Linked DNA regions of Homo sapiens: all the other regions are reported to be linked to region 4. The links are microRNA targets in miRTarBase. Many come from high-throughput screens and were not tested one by one. Region 4 holds a microRNA gene; each other region holds the end of a gene's coding sequence.
Evidence for each region. The annotated mature microRNA hsa-miR-4760-3p reads AAAUUCAUGUUCAAUCUAAACC and lies in region 4 at 2,746-2,767, shown strand. An mRNA with a match to its seed (bases 2 to 7 or 8) in the 3' UTR can be bound and repressed. Matches are read on the target gene's strand: a 7mer-m8 pairs with bases 2 to 8, a 7mer-A1 pairs with bases 2 to 7 and ends in A, and an 8mer does both.

Region 1 (5,091 bases), not on the chromosome of region 4:
AAAATTCTATCCATCCAGGCATGGTGGCACACACCTGTAGACTCAGCTACCCGGGAGGCAGGAGGATTGCTTGAGCCAAGGTGGTCAAGGCTGCAATGACTGTTCCACTGCACACTCCAGCCTGGGCAACAGAGGAAGACCGTCTCAAAAAACAAAAAACAACCCACACACAATTTATGTTGAGAAAGCAAGTCTCCCACAAATTATTTTTAAAAAATGATTCCAGGCTGGGTGTGGTGGGTCATGCCTGTAATCGCAGCACTTTGGGAGGCTGAGGTGGGCAGATCACTTGAAGTCAGGAGTTCAACACCAGCCTGGCCAACACGGTGAAACCTTGTCTCTACTAAAAATTAGTCAGGTGTGGCAGCACATGCCTGTAATCCCAGCTACTCAAGAGGCTGAGGCAGGAGAATCGCTTAGACCCAGGAGGTGGAGATTGAAATGAGCCAAGATCGTGCACTGCACTAAAGCCCGGGTGACAGAGCAAGACTCCGTCTCAAAAATAAATAAATAAATAAATAATAAAAATAATCATTCCACATCTCAAAATGACTTAGAAATTTAAATGGAAAAAATAAATAATTTGCTTGGACAATAATTTGGCTTTGGGAGAGTCCTCATCCGAAAATAACAAAATTTCCTTAATATTAGTACTAAAGAACTAATTACAGCTAACAGCTCATTTACCAAGTAGTCAATTATTCAACAAATTTAGCCATCTACTGACAAACTGAAATTAGTATCAGAAACTCCATGTATTTTATTTGTAGGAGAGCATTTTAAATTTTTCAAAAATTCATGGCATAATTTTAATAATCGTCCTTCTGTAGAATCCCTAACCTCAGAAAAAAAAAAGAGAGAATAAATTAGAAGTGAGAAAAGGAAACTGCGGAAGACTGACACATTGGACATCAGTGGGAAGAGGCAGAAAAATAGGAAGAAAAATAAAGGACAGATTTAAAACAATTTAAAAAGGACTACAAAGAGGATTGGGGCCAGTTGGTGCAGATTAAAAGACACCTTCTTCACAGACCTCAATCATGCACAGGCAGTAACGGCATTACTATAACACAGAACAGTATAGTAGCTGATTCTGATAATGAATCCTCAGAAAAGAAGAATATGGTTAAGCTTCAGTTCTTTTTGAAAAGCAATTTACATACACAATTACAAATAATTGTAAATTTTAAGCATTCAGCTAAGATATGTACAAAAAAATTAATGAAAGTGAGATCAAGAAATATAAGCAGCAGTAACCATAAAGGCTTAGAACTAGTGACACTGAATTCTTTATTTAAAAAAATTTTTGTAACACACAGTACCTCCTCTTCTCTTCTATTTTTAGGAAGAAGTTATAACAAGTTTTAAATATCTCAATTCTGAAAAACAATAGGCTTTTAAAAAATAAGACTTGATTACCAGAAACAAGTAATATGTAGTTACATAACCATTTTCATATCACTACTCATTTCCATTATTTACCAATTCATCTTTGATGCAACTTGGAAACAATTAAGCAGTCACTAGACACCTGTTTTAGAATCTGAAGAAATTATTATCCACCACAGGAATCTAATGATATATATATTTGCATATATTTAAAATTTCATGAGGGAAAAGGTAATAAACTATTCTAGTTATTTTATACCAAATATTGATATTCCTAGTCAAAACAACAAGGAATTAAGATCTTTCTCCAGGTGAACTGCTGACTATATAGAAGCTATTTCCAGCACTTTCTTCTGGGGATTAAAAATGATTTATTTCCCTGCTGGCTAAAATGATAAATTATATATTACAAGTAAGTCCTTCAGAAGTGAATATTAATTCCTTAAGAGAACCATAAAATGTATTTTTAAAAAATTCTCTTAAAAACTGAAAACAATCCTTCTCTCTAAACCTATGGCATTAATCCCTACTTGACCAAAGAAAAAAAAAAAAAAGAAGGGCATCATGTTCATGATCTAAGCATGCATAAATAAGGAAGCAAATGTATCACTGTCTTAATAGAATTTGGCAAACCAGAAGAATGGCCTAAAAATAAATAAATAAATAAATAAAAGAAGAAGAGTGTACCTTATCTTCTAAGTATGAAAGTCTAATTCTGTAGGCCTATGTCGCAAATAGTGCCCCACGAGGAAATGCAGGGAGGAGGCAAGTAGCATATTCCTATATACATTTTCTTGATATTCTGGTTGTCTTTCAACAATGCATTACAGAGAAATATTCTTTTTATTATTACAAGCCATTAATTGCTCTCTGTAGAGCAATGACTCAGATAAATGCCTTATGACTTTTAATAATGTAACTAACATATAAATTAAATCTAAGTGCAAGGAGTTTTCAATGATTCCTAAATTCAAGAGAGTGTTGTTAGCCTGATTATGAATTTTAAATGTCTGTGCTCCTATATTTTAGGATATTTCATCTTATTTTCTACTCTTTAAACCATAAGATGTACCGAAATTATTTCATTTTCCTCTACTTTCCTCTGTGTCATTTTAGTTTACTTTATGGTATTTATATGTAGAGAGAGAGGTATGTTAAAATATTGTCATAAAAAACTCAATTGAGGCTATATATGACCTATTACTCTATAGTATAGCATTGTTAATCTTTGACTCAGTATATTAATTCCTTTGGTGAATAAATGTCACCGGTCATTTCTTTATAAAAGCATTTTGGTAAGAGAACCAGCAATATGGAGACAGATTTCTCCCTAACCCCCAGAAGAAGATCAAGTCAAACAGTAGTGTAGAGCAGTTACGCAAAATATGAAAATACATAATTTACAGCTGCAATTTTCATATTAAAAGCAGTTTAAAACTATGAGTAATTCAAAGACTTTCTGTCTTGGTTAAACAGGCCAACTAATAAAACTGACAGAGATCATTGTGAGAATTTATCTAGTCAAGATAGAACAAAAACGGTTATAATTTTTTAAAAGTGGTAATTGTTAACTAGCAGTATATAAACAGTGTCCACAATTTGGTGGCTGGCCACGGTTTTAATTTTTTTTTTCAAGTTATTTCTATAGCAGACATATTTTTGAAGTCTACCCACCCCTGAGTTCAGCAATTATACTTTGAGTGTAAAATTATATGCCCTTAATTAACAACATGTACAAAGCTACAAAATGTCATCTATACAGATTAAAAACAATTTTAAAATATTATTTACCAATTATTGATTGAATGGTTTTACTGGGGTACGTATTTCAAACCTTTCAGCCAACTGGCTTTCAGTTTTAAGCCCAAATTGATTCATATATTCACTGCAGGATATTTCAAAAAGAGTGCAACAATAAGGCATTAGTAAAAATAACATTGTAGTAGAAACAGATTTTGCATATGTGAAAAGGTAATTTATAAAATACATTAATCACTTTTTAAAAAGAACTTAGTTGTAGTATCATTAACTCACATGGTACTGAGAACTGGACCTTTCAACAATTTTTTTTTTCTATAGAAAGTTTCATCTAGCTGTAAGCAAAGTCTTTTCAACAACAACAAAACAAAACCCTCCAGGAAAAACTATATGGCTGTGTGAGACAAATAAGCAACCATTTGATAGTGACTTTTGCCTAAATTTTAAAATAAAAATGTCCACACTCTTTTGTTAAAACATTAAGCCTCTGTCAAAAATGTATTTCTTATTTTAGGGTACAGGATTAAAGGACAAGATGATACTCACAAGTAAAGAAAATTTACAAGAAAAAACTTAACAAAAGTTTCAATAAAAGTATTGTAACATTCAAACTTGACTTATAACAAAAGAAACAAGATTGCAAACAAAAATGTTTACGGGGTTTCCAAACATAAATAAATGAAATAGTGTTTAGGCAGTAGGGCTCATGCTGATGGCTAGCAGGAAGTTAACAGAGTGTAACTTACTTGGAAAAAATCTTTAATGTACAAATAACAAGCCCAAATTATGGACTGCAGCAATTTAATCATCACTGCCATTTTTCTTACTTCCAAAATAAAGCCTTGATTAAACCATTCATACCCTATATTACTCATACCTTTACTTCAGAGATTGAGGAACTATATACAACAAATTAATTTATTTTCACCATAGGGATAACATACTGTACCTCTCTGCCAATGTTACTTGAAAATCTTCCATGTCAAAACAACTTGACAGTAGATATAAACAATTCAATAAATATGCAATGATCTTTCATTACAGTCCTTTAAAGACGCATGTTAATTCATGCTGTTAACCTTAGGATCACAGTGCATAGAATCCAAATATAAACAGTTGGGGTGACTTTTAAAGTAATGTTGGATCCCTCACTTTATTTATATTCCCACTATAACCAGTAAGTTCATTTCATAGGCCCTATCATGCATTAATCATTGAATGGCAGGAGTTAATGAAAACTTTTCCTGTTACAACGCCCATTGCCGGCAATGAACGTACCAAAACCGCCAAGGAAGTCATTGTTATTGCACAATACATGAGGACCTGGAGCTTTTCCAAAAGCTTAAAAAAATAAAAATAAAAAATGGAATTATATTTGACATTTCCTGACACCTGCATTAATACTGTATGACTAATAAAAGCATGTCAGTTGCCTGGACTGAACCAGCGATCAACATGCGCCCAGAATGCACACGAGTAAAAATGCAGTAAAAGGAAGTAGTCTTCATTGCCTATAGGTCACTTCCAGTCAAAGGTTAAAGTTCAAAGACTGAATGATCAAAGTGCTCATTTTCTCAGTAGGACTATCTTCTGCTAGGAGGATGATAACAGTGGCATCAACAAGTATCATCTTTAAGAAAAGGAGAAAAAAGATAATTAAAAAGTCAAGCATGTATAAGTAAATTCTACAAGTCTGTTTAATGTAGAAATAATTTCAATTAGCAAGAAGTACATAGTTTACATGTCTGATCTGCCTCCCCCAAACCTGTGAATACAAAGTGCAATATATGTTCAATTATACAGTGACAAATTTTTATTCTTTCAGAGAAATAGTTCACATAAACCTTAAAATGATATGTTATTAGCACATTCTATTTAAAATAATAAACTGACATGACATGTTAGTACATAGTCAGGATGTATCAATCTTAAGAGAATTATTTT
Region 2 (5,106 bases), not on the chromosome of region 4:
TTTGCTTCCAAGCAGCAGTGAATGGATCACTGTGAGAACACAATGATATTTTCATCTATGACTAAACTATTCTATTCTGTTCCTGCTCCTTTTAGGGAGAGGAAAATTGTTCCTGGTTATTTTGGTCTAAAGTTTTTCAAAACTTCCATTACAAATCATAAAGCAAGTTTGACTTCTGGGAAATTACACTTCAGTTAATAATTTTAAATGTATTTGTATGGTGAAGTATAACTTTATAAATGTTATCTTTTTATGTAAAAAATATATTTTTTAAACAACAACAACAAAACCTGTTACCACATTTCCTGATTTGTGGTATGACCGACACAGAGAGAATTCTCCGGTCGATGGGGAGGACAAGACCACCTCTGAGAGTAAGTTTTCAGATCTTGTCTTCAGTCATCTGTGGAGTAATCCATGCAGCCAGAAAGAAATCTTGAATTTCTAACAAGTCCACCAGCACCATCCTGATAGCCTCTTGTTCAAGAGTGACAATGTTTCCTTGGCTCTTTTTACCGTGGTACAGATAAATCTAGAAACGCATTCCACTGCCACTCTTCCCTGTCCGTCTACACATACATCCTTCTTTCTTTCTTTCTTTTTTCTTTAAAATCTCTGCTTCAAAGTGGGAAAGAAACTTAGAGGTTTCTAGGGAAAAAGTGAATGTGAAAAAGTGAATATAAAATGATTACTAGCAGTAATTATTTTCTAAACCAATGGCTTTCAAACTTTTTAAAACTACAATCAACAATAAGAAAGGCATTTTCCATCAGGTCCTACTACATGTACACTTGGACATATTTGTGTGTGTACATATATAGATAGATATGATCCAGGTTCACAAAACAGTACAGATGGTACATTATGATTTTTCTTTTTTATTCTTTTGTTTTATAAAATATTTATCATTAGTCACTAAATTGATATGATCTACTAAATGAGTGGCAACCTGCAGTTTAAAAAATACTGTTTTTGTGGGCAATATTAGCAGACAGCCTATTAATCTTTATTCCAGAAAATAACTCAAAATAAGCTTTGTTTCCTAATACCAGACTTCTTGTGTTCAAAGGATCTACTTTTGCGATGTTCTTTTGTAGTGTGTCTGCTCCATTCTTTCCCTGAAAGTCCAGAAGTCAATGCAGATGTGATTATATAAGAAAATCAAGATCATATCTTTGTTACTTCTGGTATCAACCCTAGATTCTGAACATTCCCTGCCTCTAAATATTTCTTAAAGTAAATTCTTTATAAGAACTGGCTAGAAATTGATCCAGCTTAGGCTGTTACTGCAGGCAATATCTGCAGAGACTTTTATCAGACTGGAAATGGCTTAGAAAGTGATGGAACAATAAAGGCAGATCAAATACCTTATGGCACTTCATAAAACGAAATACAGCACACCCGTGAAGAAAAATGAAGTTGATCTGTGTGCTATGAACCAATATTTAAGGTATTTATTAAATTGAAAAAAATAAGATGAACGCATTGTGTATAGTAAACTTCCACATGTTTTTAAAAGGGGAATGTATGTACATAGAATATTTCTGAAACGCTCCACAAGATATTAGTAATGGGAATTGCTTATAGGCAATAGGAAAGAGATATAGAGGGCTGGGAGTGTAGAAGGGTCAAGATTTAAGATAATACTTCTGTATACCTCTTTATGGTGTTTGTTTTTTTTATTTTGTGCATATACATATATTACTTTTTTAATTAAAAATAGCTAATTTTTAAAAGAAATATTATACATCAGATTTTGTGATAGAGGGGGTATTTGCAAACTCTTTAGGATGAAGGGAATTTTCTTTGTGAGCAATTGTATAAAAGGATATTTACTTTAATAAATGGATATTTATTATAACACCGAGATTTATCTCCTTCATTTATGTATCTTGTGTAGTTTACAGAGTTCCATGTCCATTGCCTGACTTAGTGTTCATAGCAACCTTTTGAAATAGTTGTGACACATACTAGAAGCAATGCTTTACAAATTAAAACAAAACAAAACGAAAGAAAAAACCCTAAAATCTAAAGAAATTAAAAACCTAGAACATATTATATGGAAAGAAGTTTAGAGTCATGACATGACTGTGATGTAGTACAAACCTGGACATTTTGCACTCTTAAGAGTTACCAAGAAGTTTATGAATAGTATTTTTAAAGTCTTCAACAATACTCCTCACAATGTTGATCTCTTACCTAAGGACACTTGCATAGAGGAGGAAGAAGGCAGAAAAATAAACCTCCTGAAACTCTTCATAAAATATGCCTAATATTAGAAGGTAAATGGTCAACTAACAACTGGTTGAAAATTAACATTAAAGAAGTTGCATTCATAATCTCACTCTATAGATTTTCAGCTTTGCTTTAGAACAAAGCTAAAATAATTACCTCAATGGAAAAAGATGGAGATTTCAAAGCGTCACTACTAAATCTTGAAAAATACCCTTAAGGTTTATGGGTTAGGGTTATAGTATCTCCCAGTTTCCCTGGGACAACCCCAATTTATATCTCCTGTCTCCGTATAATTACTCATAACACCCCTTTCATTCTCCAAAGTGCCCTAATTTAGATGATAAACTATATCTCCACACTATTAAATATCAATCTCTATTCTCTATACACCTTTAAGATTGTCATTTTCTAGAAATTGGGCTTCATCTTGGGGCTAAGAATTACCTTCATTCATGCCAAAGCTGAGTGATATATACTCAGATCGTAACTGCATATATGACTCTCAAATAAGAAAGAGAAGTTTTCCAAACCATTACCCACCAGCAGCTTTAGCTTTATTAAAGAGATTAATAGTGGGAAGGGAGACTCAGGGTCTGGTTTAGAAGTTTTGGCGTGTTGAGGTTTTCAAGGGAAATGTGAACTAAGAATGACTTGGTGAGACTGATGTAAAGATAAATAATTGATACCACATAACACAGTTTTTTTGTTTGTTTGTTTTTTTGAGACGGACTCTCGTTCTGTCGCTAGGCTAGAGTGCAGTGGCACGATCTCAGCTTACTGCAACTTCCGCTCCTGGGTTCAAGCGATTCTCCTGCCTCAGCCTCCCAAGTAGCTGGGACTAGAGACGCGCGCCACCACTCCCAGCTGATATTTGTATTTTTAGTAGAGACGGGGTTTCACCATGTTGGCCAAGATGGTCTCGATCTCTTGACCTCGTGATCCGCCCACCTCGACCTGCCAAAGTGTTGGGATACAGGCGTGAGCCACCGCGCTTCTAAGTGATGCTCCTCCAGAGTCATTCATGTGTCATTTACTGGTTAACATTTGGAGAGTGGCTCCTGGGAGTAAGACACTGTTCTAAGCACTGCATCAGCTTTGTCAATAGTTTTAGGGACTTTGTACTAAATTTCCAGTGGTTTGTTGAGATGTATTTTTTTACATCAGATTTTAACATCAGATGCTATACATCAGATTACAGATCAGATTTTATACATCAACCTGTCTCTGAGCTCTTTCTGACTAGCACTCTTTAGAATTTCTGTGACTTATAACTACTCTATTTGATCATTAGAAAGATTATTCCCATAGCCCAGGTAGGTTGAATAGTAGCTGCAATTTTTTTTCATGTAACAAATAAATGTATTTCTTCCATAGAACAAGCAACTGAATCCAAAGCCAAGTTGGCTATCACAGTACAGCATCTTTTACTCAGCGGTAAGCAGACCACCTCTCCAGAATATATAACTATGGAGACTTAAGGCAATGCCACAGGTTGCTTTTAAGATGTGTCTGCCTGCTACATTCTCTGCAGCACATGGCACTTAAATTGAAGTTATCATGTAGTGATTACTTGAGGTTTCTGTGTGAAGTATTAAAGAATATTTTAATTGTTCTTTTATGTTTAGATTTACACTTTTAACAAAATATTTTCAGAACATGAATATTAACAGGCATGTACCAAAGGTCATGCATTCAGAGTCTGTCTCTGCAGGAGTTAGGTCTTGGTTCTGAATCCAACTGTTTGATTTGATTCCCCCAGTTGTTTTTGTTTACATACGTCTTATGTTTATTTCTCCCCTTTCTTTACTTTCTTGGAAATCTTTTTTTCCTATCCCATTACCAAACTTTTCACAAAAGGAATCTTACGGGTTTTTCTTTTGTTCTAATCATCACTGGTTGAGTGGTTACTGTCACTGCCTTCACTGTCACTGTCACTGTCACTTCCATTGTTGTTACCGTTACCAGACTTGCTCTGGCTGTCACTCTCATCATTGCTGTCAGATGTGCTGTCACTGCTATCACTGCTGTCGCTGCTGTCACTGCTGTTGCTGCTGTCACTGCTATCGCTGCTGTCACTGCTGTCGCTGCTTTCATTGCTGTCACTGCTGTCGCTGCTGTCACTGCTGTCGCTGCTGTCACTGCTGTCGCTGCTGTCACTGCTGTCACTGCTATCACTACTATCGCTGCTGTCGCTGCTATCGCTGCTGTCGCTGCTGTCACTGCTATCACTGCTGTCGCTGCTATCACTGCTATTGCTGCTGTCACTGCTATCGCTGCTGTCGCTGCTGTCGCTGCTATCGCTGCTGTCACTGCTGTCGCTGCTGTCACTGCTGTCGCTGCTTTCACTGCTGTCACTGCTGTCACTGCTGTTGCTGCTGTCACTGCTATCACTGCTGTCGCTGCTGTCACTGCTGTCACTGCTATTGCTGCTGTCACTGCTGTCACTGCTATCGCTGCTGTCACTGCTATCGCTGCTGTCGCTGCTGTCGCTGCTATCGCTGCTGTCACTGCTATTGCTGCTGTCACTGCTATCACTGCTTTCACTGCTATCACTGCTGTCGCTGCTGTCACTGCTGTCACTGCTATCACTGCTGTCGCTGCTGTCACTGCTGTCACTGCTATTGCTGCTGTCACTGCTGTCACTGCTATCGCTGCTGTCACTGCTATCGCTGCTGTCACTGCTATCGCTGCTGTCACTGCTGTTGCTGCTGTCACTGCTATTGCTGCTGTCACTACTATTACTGCTATCACTGCTGTCACTGCTGTCACTGCTATCACTGCTGTTGCTGCTATCACTGCTGTCACTGCTGTCACTGCTATCACTGCTGTCACTGCTATCGCTGCTGTTGCTGCTGTCACTGCTGTCGCTGC
Region 3 (5,106 bases), not on the chromosome of region 4:
TTCAGTGGCAAATCCAACCTTACTGAGCATGAGAAAATCCATATTGGAGAGAAGCCTTTTAAATGTAGTGAATGTGGAACAGCCTTTGGCCAGAAGAAGTACCTCATAAAACATCAGAACATTCACACTGGAGAGAAACCCTATGAATGTAACGAATGTGGAAAAGCCTTCTCTCAGCGAACATCACTTATTGTACATGTGAGGATTCATTCAGGTGATAAACCTTACGAATGCAATGTTTGTGGAAAAGCCTTCTCTCAGAGCTCATCTCTCACTGTGCATGTGAGAAGCCATACAGGGGAGAAGCCCTATGGTTGTAATGAATGTGGGAAAGCTTTCTCTCAGTTCTCAACCCTTGCTCTGCATTTGAGAATACACACAGGTAAGAAGCCTTATCAGTGCAGTGAATGTGGGAAAGCTTTCAGCCAGAAGTCACACCACATTAGACACCAGAAAATTCATACTCACTAAAAACCCCATGAAAGCCTTGAAAGTGGGAAAGCTTTCATTAGAAATTTGCACCTCATCATGCCCCAGAAATAATCCTTCTGAAGCAAAGCACCACGAATGAGGTTAACTTTAACAAGTACTAAAAACTTAAGGGACACCAGAAAATTTGTACTGAAGAGAAAGACATGCATATGATTAAAACCCTGTGTCCAACAGAGAAACCTGCAGCAGAGATAATGGTGAAAGTTTAGGCACATTTTCACTAAAAGTGGGAACAGAAAATGGAGGCCTGTTTTTTATTGCTACCACCATAGATCTGGAGATCTTCGCCAGTAACAAGAAAAATTAAGTTGTAAATATTGGAAAGGAACAGACAAAAATAGATGACATGGTCATCTACAACTAATATTAAGACTCCTGTGGTATTGATTGAGCAGAGCAGAAGAGATTTCAAAAAAAGACCTATGCATTTATTAGAATTTGGAATATGATACAAGTGGCATCAGGAAATGAGGAAATAATGGAACTATTTTTTTTAAGTGGAGGTAGTTTGTTCTCCAAGGGGGAAAAATAGACCATGAACTATACACAAAAGTGAATCCAGAGATTAAAAACAGAAATATGGAAAAGCTATGTACTAAAATGCATATGACCTTGGGAATAGGGAAACATTCCTTGGAACAATTTGAGAAATACTTAGCGGTTCTACTTATGAGTATGAATGCTCAGGAAATACGCACTAGGATATTTACTGTGGCTTGATTTGTAGTAGCCAAAAATTAGAAACAACTGAGAAAGCCCATCACGAACAATATGGGAAATTCTTATGTAATACTATATATCTGTAAAATGCAACAAATGAAATCCACATGTATTAACAGAAAGATCCCAGAATTGTTGAGGGGGGATCAAGTTGCAGAATGATACAGATAGTACAATGACTTTTTTGTAAATTTGAATTAAAAGTTTCCTCATAAAACTCAGTACTATCTATTGGTAATGGATGCATATATGTATGTACATGTTTTTGAAACGGATTGGAAGGATACAGACCAAACTCTTGATAGTGGTCACCTGTGAAGAGTGGAGAAGGGAAAATAATGAGTGTGGGAGGTGGGATGGGTATTGGTTAAAGGGGACTTCAGCTTTTTATATAAACATCCACTTCTCTTTCAAAAGACTTCAAGTAAATATAAGAAGATACTGATTGATTCTGGATTGTGGTATAGGGATATCTTGTCTTATTTTTTGTACTTTTCTGTATTTTTAAAATTTCTCAAAATAGGAATGGGAGTGAGGATGGGAATGCTGTATCTGTGGAAGTCATGTTATACTGGATTCATTTCCAATTAAATACTAAACATTTTATAGAAAATATTTCTAAAATTTTATCACGGATGAATGGATGGACTTGCTCTCTATGTAATATGAAATTAATCTATTTTATTAAAATTTAAAAGGACAGCACAATCCAAATCTGTTTTAATTATTTTAACATGGCATACACACTATATCGGGGTCCCCAGCTCCCCCCAGCTGCATGGCAGGAGGTGAGTGGCGGGTGAGCGAGCATTGCCACCTGAGCTCCACCTCCTGCCAGATCAGCGGTGGCATTAGTTCTCATAGGAGCGCGAACCCTATTGGGAACTGTGCATGTGAGGAATCCAGGTTGTGCGCTTCTTATGAGAATGTAACGCCTGATGATCTGAGGTGGAACAGTTTCATCCTGAAAACATCCCATCCCCATTCTTCTACCCCCACAAACCGTCCGTGGAAAAATTGTCTTCCATGAAACAGGTCCCTGGTACCAAAAAGGTTGGGGACCGCTGCACTATATGATCTCTGTCTTCGTATTTCTAACATTTTGCAGAATGAGCTTAGAAAACTTTAACTTTTTCTTTGTTCATACATGCACAGGCTTCATATAATTGGTCTTTTTCAGTTAGGCTGATTTTGGAATGTCAGTTTTCCTCTCCTGCATATTTCCATGGGAAACGTGTGCATTAAATATTAAATTTTTGATAATATCTTTTTTTTTTTTTTTCCCATCTTGCTCTGTTGCCCAGGCCAGAATACCATGGCAGGATCTTGGCTCACTGCAATCTCCTCTGCTTACTGGGCTCAAGCAGTCCTCCGACCTCAGCCTCCCAAGTAGCTGGGACTACAGGCACGCACCACTATGCTGTGCCAATTAAAAAAAAAAAATTGTAGCGATGGGGTCTCCGTATATTGCCCAGATTAGTCCCAAACTCCTGGGGTGAAGTGATTCTCCATGGCCTGTTCAAGTGCTGCCATTACATTACAGGTATGAGTCACCATGCCCAGCTAATTTTATTTTTAAAAAGAGAAAACAACTTCCCATAACTTCCACAGTTCAGTGCATTAGATACCAACACCTGCGTGTCTGTCTTAACCTGCGAGCTCTGTCACTCCTCCCACTGCTGTTACAGAGAGAGAATGGGACGGGTATGAGAAAAATGGCTCAGACCCTAGACAGAGTTCTATTTTGTAAACCAGCCCTTCATGAAAATTTTTTTATTCTTTGATCACATTATAATATAAAGAATATTATTAAAGGTTTTCTTGAATAATGGTGAATGTCAATAATATACAGCATTTGAGCTTGATTTTGAAACCTTAAAAAACTCATTAAATGGCACTGCATCACTGTATCTTTTAGCCTTTTTGGAGGAATTAGATACTTAAATGTCTAAATGAATCTGCCCTTTATATTATGATGTACCCCATCTTTTTCTCTGTTTTCCCTGTTTGCACATATATTTCACATTTAAAGGTGTTGTCTTTATGATACAGTTGGCCCTCTGTATCCATGGGCTCTGCATCCATTTATCAACGAACCCTGGATGGAAAGTGTTTAAAATATACAACAATTTTAAAAATACAAATGTTAATATACAACTATTTGGATAGCATTTACATTGTATTAGGTATTATGACTAATCTAGAGATGATTCTAGCTAGGCATGTGCCACACATCTGTAGTCCCAGCCACTTGGGAGGGTGAGCTGGGAGGATTGCTTGAGCCCAGGAGTTTGAGGCTGCAGTCAGCCGTGATTGCACCACTATATTGCAGCCTGGGTGACAGAGACCCTGTCGAAAACAAACAAAACCAGGAGGAAAAACACAGGGATGGAGACAGATCAGTGGGAAGAGAATTGAGAGTCCACAAATGCTATGGGTTGAATGTCCCACCCAAAACTCAATGTTGAAATTTAATTGCCATGGTAATGGCATGAAAGGTTGAGACCCTTAAAATGGCCATGAAGGGGCTGGTCGTGGTGGCTCACACCTGTAATCTCAGCACTCTGGGAGGCCGAGGCGGGTGGATCACCTGAGGTCACGAGTTCAATACCAGCCTGGCCAACATGGCAAAACCCCGTCTCTACTAAAATTACAAAAATTAGCCGGGTGTAGTGGCACACACCTGTAATCCCAGCTACTTGGGAGGCTGAGGCAGGAGAATTGCTCCAACCCAGGAGGCAGAGGTTTGCAGTGAGCCAGGATCGTGCTACTGCACTCCAGCCTGGGAGACAGAATGAGACTCTATCTCAAAAAAAAAAAAAAAGATGTCCATGAAGTCTCCACTTTCATGAGTAGGATTGGTGTCATGATAAAAGGGCAAGTTTTGTCCCCACTTGCTGTCTCTTGTCTTTCCTCCATGGGATGACATAACAAGAAGGCCCTTGCCAGATGTCAGTCTCTCAGTTGTGGACTTCCCAGCCTCCAGAACTGTGTACCAATATGTTCTTGTTCCTTATACGTTAACCAGACTCAGGTATTCTGTTATACCAACACAAATCAATTGATACACTGTGGGCAACTGATTTTCAACTAGAATGCCAAACTTATTTAATGGAGGAAAGAATAATTCCCTTAAAAAATGATGTCGGGGGCAGTGGCTCACGCCTGTAATCCCAGCACTTTGGGAGGCCAAGGCGGGCGGATCACAAGGTCAGGAGTTCGAGACCAGCCTGGCCAGCATGGCAAAACCCCGCCTCTACTAAAAATACAAAAATTAGCCAGATGTGGTAGCGGGGGCCAGTAATCCCAGCTACTTGGGAGGTTAAGGCAGGAGAATCGCTTGAACCCAGGAGGCAGAGGTTGCAGTGAGCCGAGATCGTGCCGTTGAACTCCGGCCTGGGTGACAAGAGCAAGACTCTGTATTAAAAAAAAAAAAAAAAAAAGTGTTGGGGCCGTGCGCAGTGGCTCACGCCTGTAATCCCAGCACTTTGTGAAGCGGAGGCGGGTGGATCACCTGAGGTCAGGAGTTCAAGATCAGCCTGGCCAACATGGTGAAACCCTGTCTACTAAAAATACAAAAAATTAGCTGGGCGTGGTAGTGGACACCTATCATCCCAGTACTTTGGGAGGCTGAGCTAGGAGAATCGCTTGAACCCAGGAGGTGGAGGTTGCAGTGAGCTGAGATTGTGCCACTGCACTCCAGCCTGGCAAGAAGAGTGTCAAAAAAAAAAAAAAAAAAAAAAGCTGGGACAATTGAGGTACAAAGATGAATTTGGACTCTTGCTTCACACCGTATACAAAACTTAACTCAAAAGTGTCCAAAGACCTAAACATAAGAGATAAACTCTTGGAGGAAAACATAGGAACATAGGAGTAAATCTTCATGACCTTAGA
Region 4 (5,106 bases):
TGCCTCAGCCTCCCGAGTAGCTGGGACTACAGGCGCCCGCCACCGCGCCCGGCTAATTTTTTGTACTTTTAGTAGAGACGGGGTTTCACCTTGTTAGCCAGGATGGTCTCGATCTCCTGACCTCGTGATCCACCCGCCTCGGCCTCCCAAAGTGCTGGGATTACAGGCGTGAGGATTCCATATCTTTACAGTTGTGAATTGTGCTGTGATAAACATGTGTACAGGTGTCTTTTTGATATACTGATTGCTTCAAGAACTTAGGAACTCTGGAGTTTGATGCATATATATTTACAATTGTTACATCTTCTTGTTTAATTGGTCATTTTATCATTATATAGTGACCTTTGTCTTTTTCTTGTTGTTTTTTGTTTTGTTTTTTTTTTTTTTTTTGCTGTTGTTGCTTTGAAGTCCGTTTTATTTGATATCAGAATCGCTACTCCTTGTTTTTGGCTTCCATTTGCTGGAAATCTCTTTTTCCACCCTTTACCTGTAGTCTATAAGAATCCTTACATGTTCAGTGGTGTTTCCCAAAGACAGCGGTGTAGGCTGCTACTCACAGCTTCTTTCAAAGCTGTTTACGGTCCTGTGTTCCTTCTTGGAAAAAAGTTCACAGTGTGAATCTCTACACACTATTTTATCTTTCCAAGTGGAAAAGGAATGCTAACAATGCCTATATTCCATCATCTTGGAAAAACAAAACAACAAGAAAAACCCAATGTAAATATTATCAGCACAGAATCTTTCTTTATAGGCTCCAAAATATACCAGATGCACACTTCATATTTTATCTTGATTACATATGCCACTCTTTAGAGTCTCAGCTAACTATGACTGAGTAAGAATGTCTTAGAACACAGGCTCCCACGTCCATGAGTGCATTAAATATTCTTATTTCCAAAGTGGCCAGGCTGGCTGATAGCTATGACTAGTTGGAGAGAAAGCAGCATTTATAGCCTAAGTGGGCTGGGCAACAAACTACCTGAAATCCTTAGGAGCAAGAATAGAAGGGATGCCTTGTTCTCTACACCCAGGTATCACTCATTGCCTGATGTCTCGCTTCGTGTGTTTGCTGGGTTTCCGTCTGTCTAGGAAAGGAAGCTCTATGGGGGCAATGACTCCAATGAGTTTGTCTCCCTTTATTCCTCACCATGTAGGTGTGGATTTGAGTGGACTCCAAATGGCTGGGCCAAGGGCCTTGGATACCAAACACAGCAGAAGATGCGGAAAGGATGAGGGACCCAGGGGTTCTGTCTTTGGGGGAAGAGCCCTGTTCCCTGGACATTGCCTCCTTATATCCCTGCACTAGAATATCGTAAAATTCCCCTAGTCAAAACCCATGATCCTGCATGTCTTGGAGAGGCTGCCTCAAGGATTCCTCCTTGACTCCACTTATTTTCATGGAGAAGGAACCCCTCCATCCCTGGCATCCTTAACAGATTCCCTTCTAGCTTCTCACCCACTCCATCTCCAAGCCAGGTTTCCCTTCGCTTCTAGAAATAATCTGCAGTGGCTGCCTAAGATGTTTTCTGCGTGGAACCCAAATAAAAATGTAATAATTTAAATTAGAATTTTCTACAATCATGTGTTGCTCATGTCTGCATTATGGATACCCAGGTCACATGTAGGTAAGCAATTAGCAATTATGGTGGAAACAAGACTTCCTAACAGGTATTTTGGTGGAAACTTGAAAGCTGTTTCTAAAGCTGTTTATTCATGCAAACCTCATTACAGTCCTGACAGTAAACCTATGTGTGCACAGGGAGGCAGGAGGCTGTGAGGCAGCAGCAGGATCCTTCACCCCATGGCTCACTCACAGTGCACTCTTTAACCAGGTCTTATTATGTCCATGCTTCTGGGGTGATTAAAATATGCCCTAGAAGCCTTGATACCCAAAATAAAGCAAAACGTGGAATATGAAGTTTAAAAATGTGAAATAATAAGTAAAAGTTTTGTGAAATACATTTTTCTATACTGTTCAAATGATCTTGAAGATGGCATCCGTTTCTTAGGTCTGCCATGCAAAATGACCACGATGGAGTGGCTTAAAACAACAGACGTTTCTTCTCTCACAGACATCTGAAATCAAGAAGTCAGCAGGGCTGGTGCCTTCTGGAGGCTCTGAGGGCACATCAGTTCCTCACCTCTCCCAGCCTCCAGAGGCTTCCTCAACCCTTCACACTGCTGAGCCTGTGGCTGCCTCACTCCAGTCTCTGCCTCCACCTTCACATGGCTTCTTTTTTGTGTCTCTGTGCCTTCTCCTTTTCTGTCTCTTATATGACATTCTTCAGTGGATTTAGGACCCACCCTAATGAAGGATGACCTTATCTAGAGGTTCTTACTTTCTTTAACTCTGCAAAGACTGTATTTCCAAGTAAGGTCATATTCTGAGATTCCAGGGGTTGGGATGTTGATATATTTTTGAAGGACCACAATTCAACCCACTAAAGGGATGAAAATTAAACTGAAAAATATCAACCCCTAAAAAACCTGCTTTATTGCCAACCATATAAATTGCTCTTTGTCACAATATACAACAGAGGCCTCACAAACCTTGGTGTTCTTGGTGTGAGAATGGTGAAAAACAAGATAGAAAGCAGCCTGAAATATGCACAGGGGTGTGTCATCTCGTTACTGGGAAAGGATGTACTGTCCAAGCGACAACTAGACTGCAGAGGTAAGGCTGAGACCAGGGCTGCCATGGTGTTTAGATTGAACATGAAGTTAGAATTCTTAAGTATCAAAACTAAATTCATGTTCAATCTAAACCCCATGGCTATGCCTCTCAAGGTGAGGCCTCTGTGTTGTTCTCTATGCCTTGAGCACCCTTCCTTCTTTGCAATAAAAAAAGTTGCAGAATTGACTGGGCACAGTGGCTCACGCCTATAATCCCAGCACTTTGGGAGGCCGAGGCAGGCAGATCATGAGGTCAGGAATTCGAGATCAGCCTGGCCAACACAGAGAAACCCTGTCTCTACTAAAAATAAAAAAATTAGCCAGGCGTGGTGGTGCACGCCTATAATCCCAGCTACTTGGGAGGCTGAGGCAGGAGAAATGCTTGAACCTGGGAGGCGGAAGCTGCAGAGAGCAGAGATTGGGCCACTGAACTCCAGCCTGGGCAACAGAGCAAGACTCCCTCCCACCCCCCACACCAAAAAAAAAAAAGCTTCAGAATTTCAGTCTCCCACAACAAAACCCACACACACACAAATTTGTGTAGCAGCTACTATTTGCCAACAATTAGGGTCTACACAATTAAGACATCATCTTTAACCTCAAGCAGTTTACAATCCAGAGGGCAATGATGGAGGAGAATAATGAGGTGTGGATAAAAGTGCCTATTAGCAGAGTATGCAGTGGAAAGTGTGATAACACTTCTAGATAGAAGGCAGTTGGTCCATAGGTATTTTGGTGAGAATCTACATGTCTGATGCATCATGGGCTGTACCAAGGACAAGTCACTGCCTTTGGAAATGTTTGACTCATGCCCTGATGGATAGGTGGATAGGTCTACACATCAAAAATGCATGCCTGGCTACACATTTATGAGAACAACAAAAATTTTTTAAAAATTATAACGCCACATGCTGGCAAAGATGTGGAGAAACTGGATCTCTCATGCATTGCTGGTGGGTATGTAATATGGTGCAGACATTCTGGAAAACTCTTTGGCAGTTTCTCATAAAACTAAACATGCACTTACCATGTGGTCCAGCAATTGTTCTCTTAAGCATTTATCCCAAAGAAATATGAATTTATGTTCACAAAAAGTTATATAAAAATATCCATAGCAGCTTTCTTTATAGTAGCTAAATTCTGGACAAACAGCAACAACAACAACAACAAAATGAATGTTTCTCACAGGTGAATGGTTGAAAAATCTATGGTCCATCCATAGTTTGGAATGCTGCTATTCAGCAATCAAAAGAAATGAACTGTTGACACACACAATAACCTAGATGAGTCTGAAGGGCATTACGCTTAGTGAAAAAAAGCCAACTTCAAAAAGTTATCTTTATAAAGCATTCTCAAAACGATAAAACAGCAGAGGTGGAGAATACCTTAGTGGATACTAGTAGACAGGTACAATGGGTAGGATGGGGCCAGGTGCAAACACAGACAGATAGGAATAAGGAATTCTTCTGTGGTGTGGAATAGTTCCTCATTTGATGGTGGTGGTGGGTACATGGACCTGTAATGGGATAAAGTTAAACGGAAGTATACACCTACAGAGCTACACGAGCACATACACACAAATGAATGTGGGTTAAAAATAATGAAGGTGGCCAGGTGCAGTGGCTCATGCCTGTAAACCCAGCACTTTGAGAGGCTGAGGAGGATGGACCACCTGAGGTCAGGAGTTCGAGACCAGCCTGGCCAACATGGTGGAACCCTATCTCCACTAAAAATACAAAAATTAGCCAAGCATGGTGGCACATGCCTGTAATCCCAGCTACTGGGGAGGCTGAGGCAGGAGAATCATTTGAACTTGGGAGGCAGAGGTTGCAGTGAGCCAAGATCGTGCCACTGCACTCTAGCCTGGGTGACAGAGCGAGAATCCATCTTAAAGAACAAATAAATGAATAAAAGATGAAGGCATCTAGTCTACTGGATAATGTTAACTGGGAATGTTCCCATGTGGGTTTCCTGGCTCTGATATTGCACCACAGCTATGGAAATTCACAACATGGCCAGAAGCTAAAGGACACACAGGACTCTACTATTTTTGCAACTTCCTAGGAGTCTGTATTGCAAAACTTTAGCTTTGTAAAAGTAAATGCCAAAAGATATATATGTGCAATAAATGTGAATATATACATTAAAAAGTTGTGGGAGTTTGGAGAAGGGAGAGCCCCTTGTAGGGGTGAGGTCAGGGAGGGCTCCATAGAGGAGGTAGGACGTGAGTTTAACCTGGAAGGTGGAATGAAATCCAACTTGAAGAACTGGAGGTAATTTTCAGAATGGCAAAACAGTGCCAGCCAGTCATACCTGGAAAAGGAAAACCATGTTCTCAGACCTCAAAATAGGGAATGGGGGAGGTGGAGAAACATACAAGGTATGTTTGAGTGCTGGGGTGGAATGTCTGGGTAAAGAAGGAGTTAGTGGGTA
Region 5 (5,106 bases), not on the chromosome of region 4:
ATCATGGTGGGAGGCTTGAAGAGGAAACACTCTGATTTGGAAGAGGAGGAGGAGAGGTGGGAGTGGAGTCCAGCAGGCCTTCAGAGCTACCAGCAAGCCCTGCTCCGCATCTCCCTAGACAAAGTCCAGCGCAGCCTGGGCCCCCGAGCACCCAGCCTCCGCAGGCATGTCCTCATCCATAACACCCTCCAACAGCTGCAGGCTGCACTTCGCCTGGCTCCCGCCCCTGCCCTGCCCCCCGAGCCCCTCTTCCTGGGCGAGGAGGATTTCTCCCTGTCAGCCACCATTGGCTCTATCCTCAGGGAGCTGGACACCTCCATGGATGGGACTGAGCCCCCTCAGAATCCAGTGACTCCCCTTGGCCTCCAGAATGAAGTGCCACCCCAGCCTGATCCAGTCTTCTTAGAAGCTCTGAGCTCCCGGTACTTGGGGGACTCTGGCCTGGATGACTTCTTTCTGGACATTGACACATCTGCGGTAGAAAAGGAGCCTGCACGGGCCCCACCAGAGCCTCCTCACAACCTCTTCTGTGCCCCAGGTTCTTGGGAGTGGAATGAACTGGATCACATCATGGAAATCATTCTGGGGTCCTAAAACTGTGATAGAGGGGATCGATCCTTCCTCATGTCATCTTCGGTGGCCTGGATCCCTGAATGCAACTCTGGGTGTGTGTTTTTGTGGGGGCTCGAAGCAGTGACTATGGCCTCCTTTGTTCCCATTTCAGGGTTCCACAAACTGTCTTGCATGTGTGTGTGTGTCTGGTTACCCCGACCTTCTGTGAAGGTGGGTCTTCCTGAATTAATTTATCTATTCCAAATGCCTTAACGAGACTCTGTTTCTGGGAGTCTGATTTTCCACTTACACATTTCTTCCACCTTTCCTGCTAGTTCCCACTCCCCTGTGACCACTGGGGCCTCAGGGAAGATAAAGAAAGCTGGGCCTGTCGAAGGATGACAGGGATGTGCTGCCAGGTTGCTATAGAAACCCAGGCTCTGCCTCTTGCACCTTGAGGGGGTGGGAGGGGCTGGTGTCCTCCCTCCAGGCTGAACCCCACTTCCTCGGCAGGACCCCAGTCTCAGCAGCCTCCTGATTTCATAACCAGGCCGGACCACGTGCAATAGGGTGGAAACCAAACTGCTCCATGCCGGGTTATTTAAAAGAAAGGCAGAGTTTGTGGTGGCTTTTTTTTTTTTTTTTGGATTGTTTGTAATTTTTTTAAATAAAAGTATTTTGGAAGGAGGGATGTTGTCTAATGTTTCTAAACTTCACTGGGTCAGTGGGAGGGACCTGGTAAGTTCCTAAACATCAGCACCACTTCCGTGCCATAGCTGGGGTAGGTGTATCATTGTACATGACATTTATTGAGTGCTTGTTGGCTGAGTGCTCTAGCTCCCACTTGGAATCCTAGCACTTTGGGAGGATCTGCTTGAGGCCAGCCTGGGAAATGTGGCGAAACACTGCCTCTACAAAAAATACAAAAAGGAGCTAGGCATGGCGGCCTGTAGTCCCAGTTACTGGGGAGGCTGAGTTGGGAGGATCACCTGAGCCTGGGAGGTTGAGGCTGCAGTAAGCCATGGTCACACCACTGCACTCCAGCCTCAGAAAAAAATTAGTGCTTGTTAAGAGCACTGTTCTAGCCACTTTATTTGAATTAAGTCTGTTAATCCTCATATAGAAGTAAGTACTGTTACCACTTTTTATACAGGAGGAACCAGAAGTTTAGAGAGGACAAGTCACTTAATTCAGAGCCACACAGCTAGGAAGAACAAGGACCAGGGAGCTAGGCTGAAATGGCCTCCAGAGCCTTGTCCTTCACTATTATAAATGTTGCTTCTTAGACTAACCAGCCACGTGGGTGGGCACAGGAGGGAGAAACTGAGTCACACGGAGTATGTGTCACTGAATGTGCTGCTGAGCCCAGAGGGGCAAGAAAATGCCCAAAGACCCCCAGTACTAAAAGACCTCTTTAGGAGAGTTGGCTAGGAAGCAGAGCCCAGATTAGATTTATAGTGCTAATGCTTTTTTTTTTTTTTTTTTTTTGAGACGGAGTCTCACTCTGTCACCCAGGCTGGAGTGCAATGACAGGATTTTGGCTCACTGCAACCTCCACTCCCGGGTTCAGGCAATTCTCCTGCCTCAGCCTCCCGAATAGCAGTGACTACAGGTGCTTGCCACCACGCCCAGCTAATTTTTGTATTTTTTTTAAAATAGAGACAGTTTCACCATGTTGGCCAGGCTTGTCTCCAACTCCTAACCTCAAGTGACCCGCCTGCCTCAGCCTCCCAAAGTGCTGGGATTACAGGCATGAGCCACTGTGCCTGACCTGTGCTGATGCTTTATTTCGGAGGTACGAGCCCAGGCTGCTGAGATACAGGAGAGGAGAAGGAGGTGAAGGAAGTGAAGGAAGAGGTAATGTGATACCTGTACAGGCTATGCCTTTACAATGGTCTTTGAAGAGATGAAGCAAGTGAGCTACACAGCATTAGGGACTTTTCTGGAAGGGCTGCGAGGAGGAACAACACCTGAGTATAGTCCATGGGTGGAGAAAGGATGGGGATTTTGCTTGTGGTTTCTGGGTCAAAGCCAGATTTCTCAACCTGAAGGGGTCATTGTCAGAAAGTGGAGGGATAACCTGAAGAGGTGGGTGCCAATCCAGAGAGAGGAATGAGGTGGCCCAGAGGATCTAAAGAAAGCAACCAGGTACAGGCCAGGCGCGGTGGCTCAGGCCTGTAATTCCAGTACTTAGGGAGGCCAAGGCGGGAGGATTGCCTGAAGTGAGGAGTTTGAGACCAGCCTGGCCAACATGGCGAAGCCCTGTCTCTACTAAAAATACAAAAAATTAGCTGGGCATGGTGGCAAACACCTGTGGTCCCAGCTACTCAGGAGGCTGAGGCAGGAGAATCACTTGAATCCAGGAGGCACAGGTTGCAGTGAGCTGAGATCATACCACTGCACTCCAGCCTGAGTGACAGAGCGAGATTCCATCTCAAAAAAAAAAAAAAAAAAGCAACCAGGTGTGATACTTGCTGTGGAATTGTAAAAAATAAAAATAAAAGGTAAGCAACCAGGTCTGCATCCCAATATGATGGCAATTGAATCATGTCTTCCTCCTTGAAACCTTCAGTGCCTTTTTTTTTTTTTTTTTCTTTTGAGACAGGGTCTCTGGCTCTGTCGCCCAGGCTGGAGTGCAGTGGTACAATCACAGCTTACTGCAACCTCCACCTCATGGACTCAAGCAATTCTCCCACCTCAGCCTCAGCCTCCCAAGTAGCTGGGACTACAGGCACGTGGACCACACCTGACTAATTTTTGTATTTTTTGTAGAGATGGGGTTGTGCCATGTAGCCCAGGCTGGTCTTGAACTCCTGGAATCAAGCGATCCTCACATCTCAGCCTCCCAAAGTGCTGGGATTACAGGCATGAGCCACCACGCCCAGCCTCCAGTGACTTCTTGACACACTCAATAAAGCGCCAGCTCCACCAAGACCTGCAAGGACTGACTTATTCTCACTTCGGACAACTTTCTCAGTTCCATCTCCCACTCTCTCCATCACTCAACTGGGCTCCCTTGACCCCAGCTCCTTCTCACCCCAGGGCCTTTGCCCTAACTGTTAAATTTTCCCAGTGGACATTTTCCCCAATAGCTTCACCAATCCCAATATCCCCTTCTCAGGGAGGTCTTCCTTGCCCTTCCTAGCTCAACACATCCAGGTGGGTCACCACCCCACCACAACTTGTTTGATTTTCTTTCTTTCTTTTTTTTTGAGATGGAGTCTTGCTCTGTCTCCTAGAATGGAGTGTAGTGGCATGATCTTGGCTCACTGCAGCCTCTACCTCCCAGTTCCAGCAATTCTTCTACCTTAGCCTTCCGAGTAGCTGGGATTACAGGCACATGCCACCACACCTGGCTAATTTTTTTTTTTTTTTTTTGACACGGAGTTTTACTCTTGTTGCCCAGGCTGGAGTGCAATGACGCGATCTTGGCTCACCACAACCTCCGCCTCCTGGGTTCAAGTGATTCTCCTGCCTCAGCCTCTCGAACAGCTGGGATTACAGGCATGCGCCACCACACCCAGCTGATTTTGTATTTTCAGTAGAGACAACGTTTCTCCATATTGGTCAGGCTGGTCTTGAACTCCTGACCTCAGGTGATCCGCCCGCCTCGGCCTCCCAAAGTGCTGGGATTACAGGCATGAGCCACTGCACCTGGACTGATTTTGTTTTAGTAGCATCTACCCAATCTCGAGTTACTTATTTCCCATCTATAGGTAGCCTCCTACTCTCCTGGGAACTCTGAGGGTTGTGTTGGTCTGTGCCTAGAACTATGCTTGGCACAACTGCACTCTCCAAAATTATTTGTTGTTGAAGGGTCAGGCACGGTAGCTCACGCCTATAATCCCAGCACTTTGGGAGGCCAAGGCGGTCGGATCACCTGAGGCTAGGAGTTCGAAACCAGCCTGACCACCATGGAAAAACCCTGTCTCTACTAAAAATACAAAATTAGCCAGGCGTAGTGGCACATGGCTATAATCCCAGCTACTCAGGAGGCTGAGGCAGGAGAATCACTTGAACCCAGGAGGCGGAGGTTGTGGTGAGCTGAGATCGTGCCATTGCACTCCAGCCTGGGCAACAAGAGCGAAACTCCATCTCAAAAAAAAAAAAAATTATTTGTTGTTGAAAAACTTGGCCAGGTGCAGTGGTTCACGCCTGTAATCCCAGCATTTTGGGAGGCTGAGGCAGGAAGATCGCTTGTGTCCAGTTCAAGACCAGCCTGGGCAACACAGGGAGACCCCATCTCTACAAAAAACTAAAATAAAATTAGCTGGGCTGATGGCATGCCCTTGTAGTCCCACCTACTCAGGAGGCTGAGGTGGGAGGATCGCTCGAGCTCAGGAAATGGAGGCTGTGAGCAGAGATAACACCACTGCACTCCAGCACTCCATCTGGAACAGAGCAACAGAGGGAGGTCCTGTCTCAAAAAAAAAAAAAAAAAAAAAAAAAGGCCGGGTGCGGTGGCTCACACCTGTAATTCCAGCACTTTGGGAGGCCGAGGCGGGCAGATCACGAGGTCAGGAGATTGAGACCATCCTGGCTAACACGGTGAAA

Region 1: the mRNA of UBE2W is a reported target of hsa-miR-4760-3p. Seed matches in the 3' UTR shown: 8mer at 4,210-4,217, 7mer-A1 at 2,834-2,840, 7mer-m8 at 1,484-1,490 and 7mer-m8 at 794-800.
Region 2: the mRNA of DSPP is a reported target of hsa-miR-4760-3p. The part of its 3' UTR that is shown has no 7-base or 8-base seed match.
Region 3: the mRNA of ZNF146 is a reported target of hsa-miR-4760-3p. Seed matches in the 3' UTR shown: 7mer-A1 at 1,406-1,412.
Region 5: the mRNA of SERTAD3 is a reported target of hsa-miR-4760-3p. Seed matches in the 3' UTR shown: 7mer-A1 at 795-801.

The regions. Positions count from the first base shown.
Region 1 is chr8:73,789,339-73,794,429 of GRCh38, forward strand. UBE2W (ubiquitin conjugating enzyme E2 W) reads right to left here. Exons shown (of 6, transcript NM_018299.6): 6 at 1-4,777. The coding sequence ends at 4,764. Among named protein-coding and RNA genes, the nearest start is that of STAU2, 45 kb to the left of the region's middle.
Region 2 is chr4:87,615,580-87,620,685 of GRCh38, reverse strand. It overlaps DSPP (dentin sialophosphoprotein), which reads right to left. Exons shown (of 5, transcript NM_014208.3): 5 at 3,813-5,106. The coding sequence ends at 4,118. All of the region lies in intron 3 of DMP1-AS1 (DMP1 and DSPP antisense RNA 1), which reads left to right. Among named protein-coding and RNA genes, the nearest start is that of DSPP, 9.6 kb to the right of the region's middle.
Region 3 is chr19:36,236,849-36,241,954 of GRCh38, forward strand. ZNF146 (zinc finger protein 146) reads left to right here. Exons shown (of 4, transcript NM_007145.3): 4 at 1-1,920. The coding sequence ends at 471. It also overlaps a transcript of ZNF565 not described here. Among named protein-coding and RNA genes, the nearest start is that of ZNF146, 24 kb to the left of the region's middle. RefSeq lists a silencer at 4,036-4,236.
Region 4 is chr21:40,210,020-40,215,125 of GRCh38, reverse strand. It overlaps MIR4760 (microRNA 4760), which reads left to right and starts at 2,695; the gene lies at 2,695-2,774. The region is part of intron 11 of DSCAM (DS cell adhesion molecule); the gene reads left to right.
Region 5 is chr19:40,436,978-40,442,083 of GRCh38, reverse strand. SERTAD3 (SERTA domain containing 3) reads left to right here. Exons shown (of 2, transcript NM_203344.3): 2 at 1-1,240. The coding sequence starts at 4. The coding sequence ends at 594. Among named protein-coding and RNA genes, the nearest start is that of SERTAD3, 4.8 kb to the left of the region's middle.